2 linked regions of the Homo sapiens genome follow. The protein of the gene in region 1 interacts with the protein of each later gene in a pairwise test. Each region holds a gene or a part of one and is shown in the gene's direction. Other genes may lie near its edges.

Evidence for each region.
Region 2: the proteins of SPATA6 (region 1) and GEM interact in binary tests that used the Homo sapiens proteins (3 or more experiments, as listed by UniProt).

The regions. Positions count from the first base shown.
Region 1 is NC_000001.11:48,462,186-48,469,495, reverse strand, and holds part of SPATA6 (spermatogenesis-associated protein 6 isoform 1 precursor), read left to right. Parts: intron 1-7,310. UniProt on the Homo sapiens protein: Required for formation of the sperm connecting piece during spermiogenesis. Sperm connecting piece is essential for linking the developing flagellum to the head during late spermiogenesis.
Region 2 is NC_000008.11:94,248,466-94,252,342, reverse strand, and holds the end of GEM (GTP-binding protein GEM), read left to right. Parts: intron 1-119; coding exon 120-324; intron 325-1,577; coding exon of another isoform or gene 1,578-1,591; exon of another isoform or gene 1,592-1,755; coding exon 1,756-2,033; 3' UTR 2,034-3,090; downstream 3,091-3,877. UniProt on the Homo sapiens protein: Could be a regulatory protein, possibly participating in receptor-mediated signal transduction at the plasma membrane. Has guanine nucleotide-binding activity but undetectable intrinsic GTPase activity.

The DNA.
Region 1 (7,310 bases):
ATATATATATATATATATATATAAATAGATATTTGTTTTTATGAAATAGGTAGCGTATAAACTATTCTGTACCTTTGCTTTTCTTCGTTCAGTATGTCCTGGAGATCACTCTGTATCTATTAAAACTGGCATCTTTCTCCCCAACTTTTTAAATGAAATTTTTCAAACATACAGAGTACTTAGAAGAATAGTTCAATGAATAACTGTAACCCATGACCATGTACATTAATTTGATTTGTCTATATGTATGTGTATGTTTATGTATAAATTTTTTATTTTTTTGCTAAAAATTGAAAATAAATTGACATAATGATACTCCACCTGTAAGTACTTCAGCATGTGTCTTCTAAAAATAAGGATATTAGCTGGGTATGATGACAGGCACCTGTAGTTCCAGCTACTCAGGGGACTGAGGCAGGAGGATTACCTGAGCCCAGGAGTTTGAAGCTGTAGTATGCTGTGAGCACACCTGTGAGTAGCCCTGCACTCCAGCCTGGGCAACACAGTGAGACCCTGTCTCTTAAATAAATACATACGTAAATAAAATTAAAAAATAAGGAGATTGTTCTGTATAACCCCAACACCATTATTACACCTAAGATAATTGGTGAGAAATTCTTAATATTTAGTTCATATTCAAGTTTTTCTGGTTGTCCCAAACATGAGTTCCATAGTTAACTTTTTCAAACCGGGATCCAGTCAAGGTTTATATATTACCTTTAATCATTTGATTGATAGGTCTTTGTAGTTCATTTTAATATAGAGCAGTTCTATTTTTTTTTTATTCCCACAATGTTCCTTTTTTTTCCTCAGTTGGTTTTGGTCAATTCATACACTCATGTCACCATCACCCAGATCAAGATTTGGAACACTTCCATCACCCCTCGCAATTCCCTTGTTCCCCTTTCAGGTCCATTCCAGACAGAACTGCTTTCCAGAGAGAAATAAGTATAGGAGATGATGGAAATGTTAATTAGCTTGAATTAATCATTTCACAGTGTACATACCTGTAGCAAAACATCACTTTGTACAGTGTAAATATATGTAAGTTTTGACAAAAAAGAATGGATAAATATATTGTAGTATACACATACAATAGAATACTACTCCACAATTCAAAGGTACTACTGATAGAACCAACAACATGGATGAATCTCAAGAACATGCTGAGCAAAAGAAGTCAGATACTAAATATCACATACTATGTGGCTCCAATGTGAAGTTTAAGTACTGGCAAAGTAATCCATAGTGATAGAAATCGGAATAGTGTACACACACACCCCCTCACACACACACCTACCACATTTTCTTTATCCATTCATTCGTTGATGGACACTTAGGTTGCTTCCATATCATGAGTATGGTGAATAATGCAGCAATGAATATGAGAGTGCAGATCTCTTCCATATACTAATTTCCTTTGGATACATACCCAGAAGTGAGATTGCTGGATTATATGGTAGTTCTATTTTTTAATTATTTGAGGAAATTTTTCTTTTTTTAAATTATTTGAGGAAATATGCTTTTTGTAATGGCTCTTCTAATTTACATTTCTACCAACGGTGTACAAGGGTTCCCCTTTCTCCACATTCTTTCCAACACTTACAATTTTTTGAATTTATTATAGTAGTCGTTCTAACATGTGCGAGGGCATATCTTATTATATTTTTGATTTGCATTTCCCTGATGATTAGAGATGGTAAGCACCTTTTCATACACCTGTTGGCCATTTGAGATATCTAGTCAGACCTCTTGCCCATTTTTAAAATTAGGTTTTTTGTTTTCTTGCTATTGAGTTTGGGTCCTTACATATTTTGGATATTAACCGCTTATCAGATTTTCTCCATTCTGTATGTTTACTGTTAGTGGTTTCCTTTGCTGTGTAGAAGCTTTTTACTCTGATGCTATCCATTCTCTTGTTGATGGTTGTTTGGGTTGTTGCCAGGTTATGGTTATTATTGGATAATACTATTATGAATATTCATTCTTGTAAAAATCTTTTTGTGGACATTACCTTTTGAACATACTTGGCTCGGTTACAGAATAGTTCATGTTGTATTATTGCCTGATTTTTTCTTCTTTTTGTGGTGACATTCAGTTTTTTCCCAATTACTATAAACTGGAAACTAGGTGTTATCTTTGATTGCCTGTTGAAAGTTGCAATCTCATTCTTCTCTACCCCTTCCATGCTTACTTTTTGCTGAAGTTTTGTGTTAGTGGTAATCTCATCTGTGTAATACTTTAGTAATATGAAAGTAAAAACATAGAAAGGTTTGGATGTGTCACACAACATTTTATGTTGCCCAACAGAGCCATATGACATGAGAGAAAATATATTGCTAAGAGGAAAGTGACTTTTCTCAATGAGTCTTTGGAGAATGACATAGTATGCTAAGTAACTTGTTTTTAAAGAGCATCAAAAGAATTATATTTTCCATCACTTACATTTTAAATCTTTAAAACTTTTGTCTTTGATGGGAAGAAGTATTATTGCTGCTTTATCTCTTTACCTTCTTTTTATATTTAATATTTCAATTTTTATGAGCTTATTTGGGAAAATGGAAGATATTGGAGGTAAAGTAATAGTGTCAATTTGGGATTGCATGTAATTCTCACTTCATCTCATTACCTAACTGAAACTAATGATAGCACTGTGGCAGACAGATCTGGCTTCTTTCAGTCACTACTCATCTGAATATTTATCTTTGTGATCCTTATCCAGGTTACTGTAGGTAGTGTCTCAGTCACAGTTAAGCCACAGTTGGTGGTAAATTTCGCTGGAATATAGACTTTAAAAAATTTTAACTATAAAATAGTTCAAATTTATAGAAAAAAAAAACTGAATCCTTTGATGCCCCACCCCCCATTTAACAAATGATAAATTTTACATGTTTGCTGCAGATTTTTGTTTTTAAGAAATATAATGTTGCATGTAGGTGAGGCCTCCTCTGTACCTTTTACCTCTTCCTGACCACTTTTTCCTCCCTACCTTCCTTAAAATAACTAATATCCTGAAGTTGTAGTGTATTGTTTGTTCAGATTTTTGTACTTATTACTAAGTATTTGTGTATGTCTGTGTATAACCTATGCTGTAGTTTTGTTTTTAAATTTTGCACAAATAGTATCTTACTTGTATGTATCCTTCTGCAACCTGCTTTTTCTGATTCACTGTTTTTGAGATTTTTCAGTGTTGATTCTTGCAGGTCTAGTTCATTTCCTTCATTAGTATAAAATGGTATATGTTTATATTAACAGTGATATAATTTTTGTTCCTCTCTTAATGGACTTTTTATTAAATACTAGTAGTTAATGCTTTTTATTATTCAAAACAATGTTTCAATGAATATATTTGCACATATTTCCTAGTATCATTGTGTCTGTTGTTCTCAGGGGTGTATTGTGTGCCCTAGGGAGCATTTTACAAATTGACTAGACTACTTTTGTTTGTCACAGTGGTTGGGGAGTCCTGTGGTATTAATTGTTCGGTATCCTGCATGACTTGAATGTCTCATTGAATATGTAGATGAAAAACCTGTTTATAATTACTGGAGGTTAATAACATAATAGCAGTTGATAATCAATTATCTGTTTATTTATAAACACAAAGTCTTTTTAAAAGGTTTTTAAAACGCATTTTACAGTAATGCAATTGCCATGTAAATTGAGGAAAGAGTACACTTTGTTGGGTTTGGTGCTCTGCTAAGAGTTTACTTTTTTTGGAAAATCATGGCACCAGAGGCAATGCTGCTTGTGGTGTTTGAGTTGCTAGTGTGGGATGTTTATCATCTCACGTTTGAAACTGCCCATTTCACATAGATTCTGTGTATAGGTGCAAATATATCTTCCAGTGTAGTCTTGCCCAAGCATTTACATGTTAGAAATATGTATTTTCTTATAAAGTATTTCTGTATTTTTTCAAACTTTAATTAGGATATTGGTTTATTGTTTAGTTATATGTATAGGTAAGTTGAAAATATTTTCTGTAAAAGGATGATTTTGGGTCTTATAGAATGGTGACCCAGTGCTCTAGGGAGTAGATCTAGAAATGGAACTATTGAGTCTCAGGGTATCCGGTTAGTTTCCTAGGACTGTCATAACAAATTATCACAAACGTAGTTGCTTAAAACAACAGAAATTTATTCCCTCACATTTCTGGAGGCCAGAGTACAAAATAAAAGTGTCAGCAGAACGGTGCTCCTTTCAAAAGCTTTAGGGGAGAATCTTTCCTGCCTCTTCTAGTTTTTGATGGTTCCAGGCATTCCTTGGATTGTGGCTGCTTAACTCCAATCTTGGATCCTAGAGGTTTCCTTTTCTGTGACTACCAATATCCTTTGTCCTTTAAAAGTGTATTCTTGTTTTCTTCTTCTTGTTAAATATATTTTGGATACTAAACCTTTATTGGTTATGTGTAATGGAATTTTCAAAGATCGTCTAGTTGAAGTTTATATTTTACTTTGTTTTTGCTCTTTTTAGTACTGCATGTTTTTCATTTTCTAATTTTTTCGTTTCTGGTAAACAAAGAATGCTATTGATTTTTAAAATGATTATTTTACTTGACAAACTTGTATATATTTATTGCGTTATTGATTTTTTAAATTAAGTTTTTTATGGAACTATAGCATATATTCATAAAGTACACAAATCGTAAATGTATAATCACCAATAATTAGAATATTATCAGAACCCCAGATTGCTCCATTGGGCTGTCTCCCTCCCGCCACTTCACCTACCCCTGTTCCTCTCCCAAAGGTAACCACATCTTGACTTCTCTTACAATATATTTTGAAGTTTTGAAATCTAGCTATATCTATCTATGATCTGTCTATTTTGTATGGTCTGAATTCTTTTATGTCTAACCAATTTGTGGGAGTTTATCCTTGTGGTTTATGAGGCAATAGCCCTTTTTTCCCTTCTTAAATGAATATAACACTATTTATTCTTCCTATTGTTGATGGACATTCTCATTGTTTCTAGTTTGGGGATATTACAAATTGTGCTCCTATGAGCATTCTTGTATATATCTTTGTTGCACATTTTATATTTTAATTTTGGATGCAACATTAAATAACATGAAATAACATTATTTCAATAGTTGTATTTTTTATGTGGAAAATGACGTTGTTTGAAAATAGACAGTTTTGACTTTTGCAGTACAATCCTTTGTTTTGTTTTGTTTTGTTTTGTTTGCCTTGTCTTTATGTTGATGGCTAGAATTTCTAGTATAGTGTTTAATGTTAGGGATAACAAAGTAGGTATCTTTGTCGTTTTTTCTAATTTTAAATTATGCTTCTGAAGTCTCACCATCATTAGACCAAATCCTATGAAATCGCTGATAATGGGCCATTTTTTTGGCTTAAAAAAACCTCAGCCATTTCAAATGTAGTTGAACCTAATAGAATATTGGCTGTAGGGTTTTCATTTATTGAGTTAGTGCAGTTCCCTTCTATTCTAATTTTAAAAAATCCTGAATGTTGAGTTATTTGGGATGTTTTTTTTTAATCCAGTGAAATTATTATATAATAATGCTTTCATAGTCTGTAAAAAAATGACACTTTTTGATGTTGAACTATTCCTATTCCTGTAATAAGTTCTTTTAAGTCAGGATGTACAGTTTTTACTCTATTTTGCTGGATTTGGTTGGCTAATTTTTTATTTAGGATCTTTTATTTGTATTTGTAGAGAGATTTTAGCTTTATGAGTCAACTACTTTTTTTCACTTATTTTTAAAACATTTATTTTGAAATATTTCAGACATATAGGAAGTTATAGAGTAACATTTAATGAACACCTGTGTACCCATCCAGGTGAAGCATCCTGTAAATCTCTGCCTAATAAAATCCCTTTTTCCTTCTTCTTTTTGGCCAATCGGTATCCTGAATTTTGTATTTACCACTTCTCTGCAATTTGCAATATTTTTTCTCATTGTAATATCTGCCTTTAAGGCACTTGATTTGCTTCCAGTTGCTGTTTAACTGGCATCTCAAAGCTATTGATAATGTTTTAAAATCATTTGGCTCTAAATATTTTATAATTTTTATTATGATTTCTACTTTAGCTTATGAACTATCTAGGATTTGTTTTAATTCCAAGATGCATAAGATTTACGTGTGTGTAACACTCTCCCATACTCATACTCTCCCCCCTACCTATACACATACATACCTACACATATACATATATATTATCTTTTATTGTGGTATTTTAATGAATTGCATTGGGGTCATGTATTAGGGTTCTCCAGAAAAACAGAACCAATAGGATATACTATATAGTTATTTAATAGGGAATTTATTATGGGGATTGGCTCACTTGATGACGGCTTTGCAGTCCCATGATATGCTGCCTGCAAGCTGTCTGCAAGCTGCAGAACCAGGGAAGCTTGGTGATGTAATTCAATCTGAGTACAAAGGCCTGAGAACCAGGTGTAAGTCTTGGAGTCTGAGGGGTTGAGAACCTGCAGTTCTGTTATCCCAGGGCAGGAAAAGATGGATGTCCGAGCTCAAGGAGAGAGAGCACATTTGCCCTTAATCTGACCTTTTGTTCTATCCTTGCACTCAACAGATGGTATAATCCCTGCCCACATTGGTGAGGGTGGTCTTTGTTACTCAATCTGCTGATTCAAATACTAATCTCTTATGGAAACATCCTCACAGACACACCAAGAAATAATGTTTACCAGCTACTCACGTATCCCTTAACCCAGTGAAGTAGATACATAAAATTAACCATCATAGCTAGTGAACAAGGTCTCTATGTTATTATGTTTGTTATTTCCTTTGTGTCCTGATACTTATCCAATTGTTGTAAATGCTCTCTACTTGCTTAAAATAATATATAATCTCATTTGTTGGATGTATGGCTCTATCTGTCATTATCACACCAATCTTACTTACTCTGAAATTCAATTCCATATTAAATTTTTTGTCTGCATGATCTACCCATTTGTAATGGAGAGGTATTAAAATCTTCACTATGATTATGTATTTTCACTTTATCCTTGATGTATTTCAGTACACTGTGATGTATAGAGCTGTGGATTTATTTGTTTATTCTGTTTTGCACTGGGTGTATGCTTTCCACTTCAGAATTTAAGGTTTTCTGTAGTTCTTGAAAATTCTTAGCTATCATATTATTTTTTATTTTTTGTTATTATTGTACTTTAAGTTTTAGGGTACATGTGCACAATGGGCCGGTTTGTTACATATGTATACATGTGCCATGCTGGTGTGCTGCACCCATTAACTCGTCATTTAGCATTAGGTATGTCTCCTAATGCTATCCCTCCCCGCTCCCCCCACCCCACAACAGTC
Region 2 (3,877 bases), on another chromosome or scaffold:
TTTTTCCTATTTTTCCTATCAGCAAGTGTACTTTAGGATACACATATTGTTTCTTTGCAAACTGATGCTTTATTCCCCAGGCCTAACTGAACTCACAGAAGATCTTATTGTTTCATTAGGGGGAAAATGAATGGCTCCATGACCACTGCATGCAGGTCGGGGACGCATACCTGATTGTCTACTCAATCACAGACCGAGCGAGCTTCGAGAAGGCATCTGAGCTGCGAATCCAGCTCCGCAGGGCCCGGCAGACAGAGGACATTCCCATAATTTTGGTTGGCAACAAAAGTGACTTAGTGCGGTGCCGAGAAGTGTCTGTATCAGGTAAGAGGAGCAGAGCCAATACTGTAGAAACAATCGCTGGATCACATGTGTTTTCCTTCAGACACGGGTTCTTCCCTCCTTCCACGAGGCTGGATCTAGGAACTCATTAAGATGCTATATGAAATTTTAGGTGTGTTTCTCAGACTCCTACAGTCCCAGTGGGTCTCCTCCACACTAGTTGTTCTCCCTTGTCCATCTGGTCTACCTGCAGGATACTAATCCTCCCGCTTTTAAGGAGTTTCCTGGAATTCCCAAGAGTACAGGGAAATGAAAGTAGCATCTTCATGCAAGGAGGATAGGGAACTCTGATTTAGGGGAACTGTGAGAAAGAGTTTCATTGAGGAAAAAGAATTCTACTCTGGCTGACTCTGGTTCCTGTGAGCCCTAGAAACACTGTCCTACTCTCCTACTCCCCATCCCTGGCTTCTGAAATTTCATTTGAGGCATCAGTCTGATGGGGTCACATATTCTTCTTCATACTTAGCTCAGGGAAAATCTCTATCTGCTGAGTGGGCAGCCAAGTGCTTTTATAGCCCTTGAGATTTTACTGGCCTAATTCAGATTTGATCCTGGTACAATTATAAAACTAAAATACTACATTGCCGGGCCCTGCTCAGGAGGAAAGACACCTGATAAAGACAATGTACACACTAGTTTGGGAATGTCTTCCTACTAGGACACAACTGTCTACAGTAATCATTTTTTTTCCAAACCAAAACTTGATGCATGGTCATTGAATGCAATGAAATACTTGAAATTGAGACTGTCCCAGAAAAGCTTGTATAATTTAACTGTATTACACATTTGTAAAATTCTCAATTTTTTCCCAAGATATCTCATTATTGCTTTATTTTTATTTTTATTTTAAAAGAGAGGAAAGCTAAGCAGTAGAATTCTTATTTCCAATTCTGGAAACTGGGTCAGGAGAAAGAGTTGAGTATGGGCTTGAGAACTGAGCAGACCTGGCTTCACTGCCACTTACAGGCTGTGTGAACTTCACCTGCAGAGGAGACTCCCCTCGGTTTCTTCATGTATTTGACAGGGATAATAATGTATTTTCCAAGATTGTTGTGGACATTGAAAACAGTGTTTATAAAGAACTTAGCCTTGTTCTTGGCACATTGTAAGTCAGCAGTAAATTAAGGGTATGGCTTTTACTGTTATAACTAATATCACTATATTTGATGAAATGGGACCTTCAGACAGTGAATTTATGGGGGATCAGATCTAAAGCCCATCTCCCTTACTTCCAGGGACCCTCCAGTGAGACATTTTCTATTCATGCCCTGGGAGGGCCCATGCCGCAGCAGCATCCTCTATCCACTGCATATACAGCTGACTTAGTGTTACCTCGAAGAACCATCCAGCTTGACTGTGTGCTATGTGGGACTGTGCTCTGCAGTCCCTCTGACCTCTTTCTTTCCTTCCCAGAAGGGAGAGCCTGTGCAGTGGTGTTTGACTGCAAGTTCATCGAGACCTCTGCAGCTGTCCAGCACAACGTGAAGGAGCTGTTTGAGGGCATTGTGCGACAGGTGCGCCTTCGGCGGGACAGCAAGGAGAAGAATGAACGGCGGCTGGCCTACCAGAAAAGGAAGGAGAGCATGCCCAGGAAAGCCAGGCGCTTCTGGGGCAAGATCGTGGCCAAAAACAACAAGAATATGGCCTTCAAGCTCAAGTCCAAATCCTGCCATGACCTCTCTGTACTCTAGGAACCCAGGGTCACCCAGATGTCCCTTTGATGGCCGTTGTTGAAGGCCATTGGGACCAATAATCTATATTAGATTGAATACTTAAGTTAGATGTGGTTTCCCCCATTGTAGCAGGGAGCTAGCGTATTAGCCTTGTGGGCAACATGATGCATGGGAAATGAAAGATTTTTGTAAAAAGTCAGTATTTATTTCCAGGAAAAGCCTGACCTTGCTATTTGAACACCCAAGACTCTTTAGAGGATGTGTTTGGTGTTCACATGTGTTTCTTCTATTTTGGATAGTAGAGAAGTAAAGCTTACAAAGAATGCCTAGAACAAGAACTTTTCATCATTAAAAATTTTTCCCAGTGTTCTGATATGTGACTTTGAGGCCAATGAGTCATAAACAAATATAAGAAAGCTGTCAATGAGTTTCTTCAAAGGAGGGAAAACTTTCTACGAATCTAAGATCCATGGAGCTAGAATTGTAGAACTAGGCTCATCAGAATCGTGACTATTATTGCTCCATCAAACTGTGAAAAGAAATGATGTGGACCTTGCTGGAAACAAAGGCTTAGCAAACAATTTTTGTTCAATGCCCACCAAGACATATAGAATTGGGAACTGATACATGTGTCCCTTATAGGCTCAAAAATTATATCTTACAATTTCTTATTTAGGGGGAAATTATTTGAATCAGATTCTATTTAGTCAAACCACCTTTTATGTTTTATTATTTTTGAATTCATGGAGCCATCATAAAAATATTTTTAAAATCAGAATTATTGATACCCTGTAGTGCAAAATGTCAATTTTTAATGTATAATCAGAAGTCTGAATTTTTATAAAACATATAGCATAAAAACTTCCAGTACTTTGGTTGACCCTTGTATGTCACAGCTCTGCTCTATTTATTATTATTTTGCAAAATAACCATTTTAACATTTGATAAAGCATATTTATGAACATATTTCTTAATAAGAAAAATATCCATTTTATTACCATTTTCTATCTTTTTCAAAATATGCAAGTTTTTACCTATATGTCTTATAATAAAAGAAATAAAATATTTGAAAAAAGGCATTCTTGATTGATTTTCCTCCCCAAACAAGATGATTAGGATTATTTTTATACAGCCTTTAGAGCAAGCACATTCCAAAGAGACATATGCCTATTGTTTTCTTTCTTTTTCTCACTAGCAATAGCCCAGTCATTATCCGTTTTAAAGGATATCCCTGACATCTCTGCTTTGAAATCACGATTCACGGTAATGCAAAGTTGTTTTTGGCTGATACCGTTGGGAAGTATTTGGGGTCATCTCAATGCTGTTATAGGAAAAGCCAGATTGACCTTTTACTTTGGTCTGGCAAATGCCTGACTGAACAGATGGGCTTCACTTTGCTCCCTGGAGGCTGATGGTCTTAAGCTTGACTAAGGCATTAGAGGAAGTTATAAAGGATTAGGGGGAAATAAAATAAAGGAATCTAGTGATTTCCAGCCTGAGATCTAGCCAGGCAAAGCTTTCACCAAATTCTCCTCTCTGACATTAATATGGCTTGACATTAATCACTTGGCATCTATCCAGCGGCCGTATGCAGCCCTTTTGCTGGAATGGAACTTCTGGTGTTCTCCCTTCACATCTTCTCTGGCCCTATATGCACCCTATTTCATTCTCTTCTCCCTAGCTTTTTGAGTTTGTAGTGAGACACACACTGATGGTGACAATCATGGGACTTCAGACATTCCCTAAAGCTACACAGTTGTTGTTTTCTTGAGACGGAGTCACTGTGTCACCCAGGCTGGAGTGCAGTGGCGTGATCTCGGCTCACTGCAACCTCCGCCTTCTGGGTTCAAGCGATTCTCCTG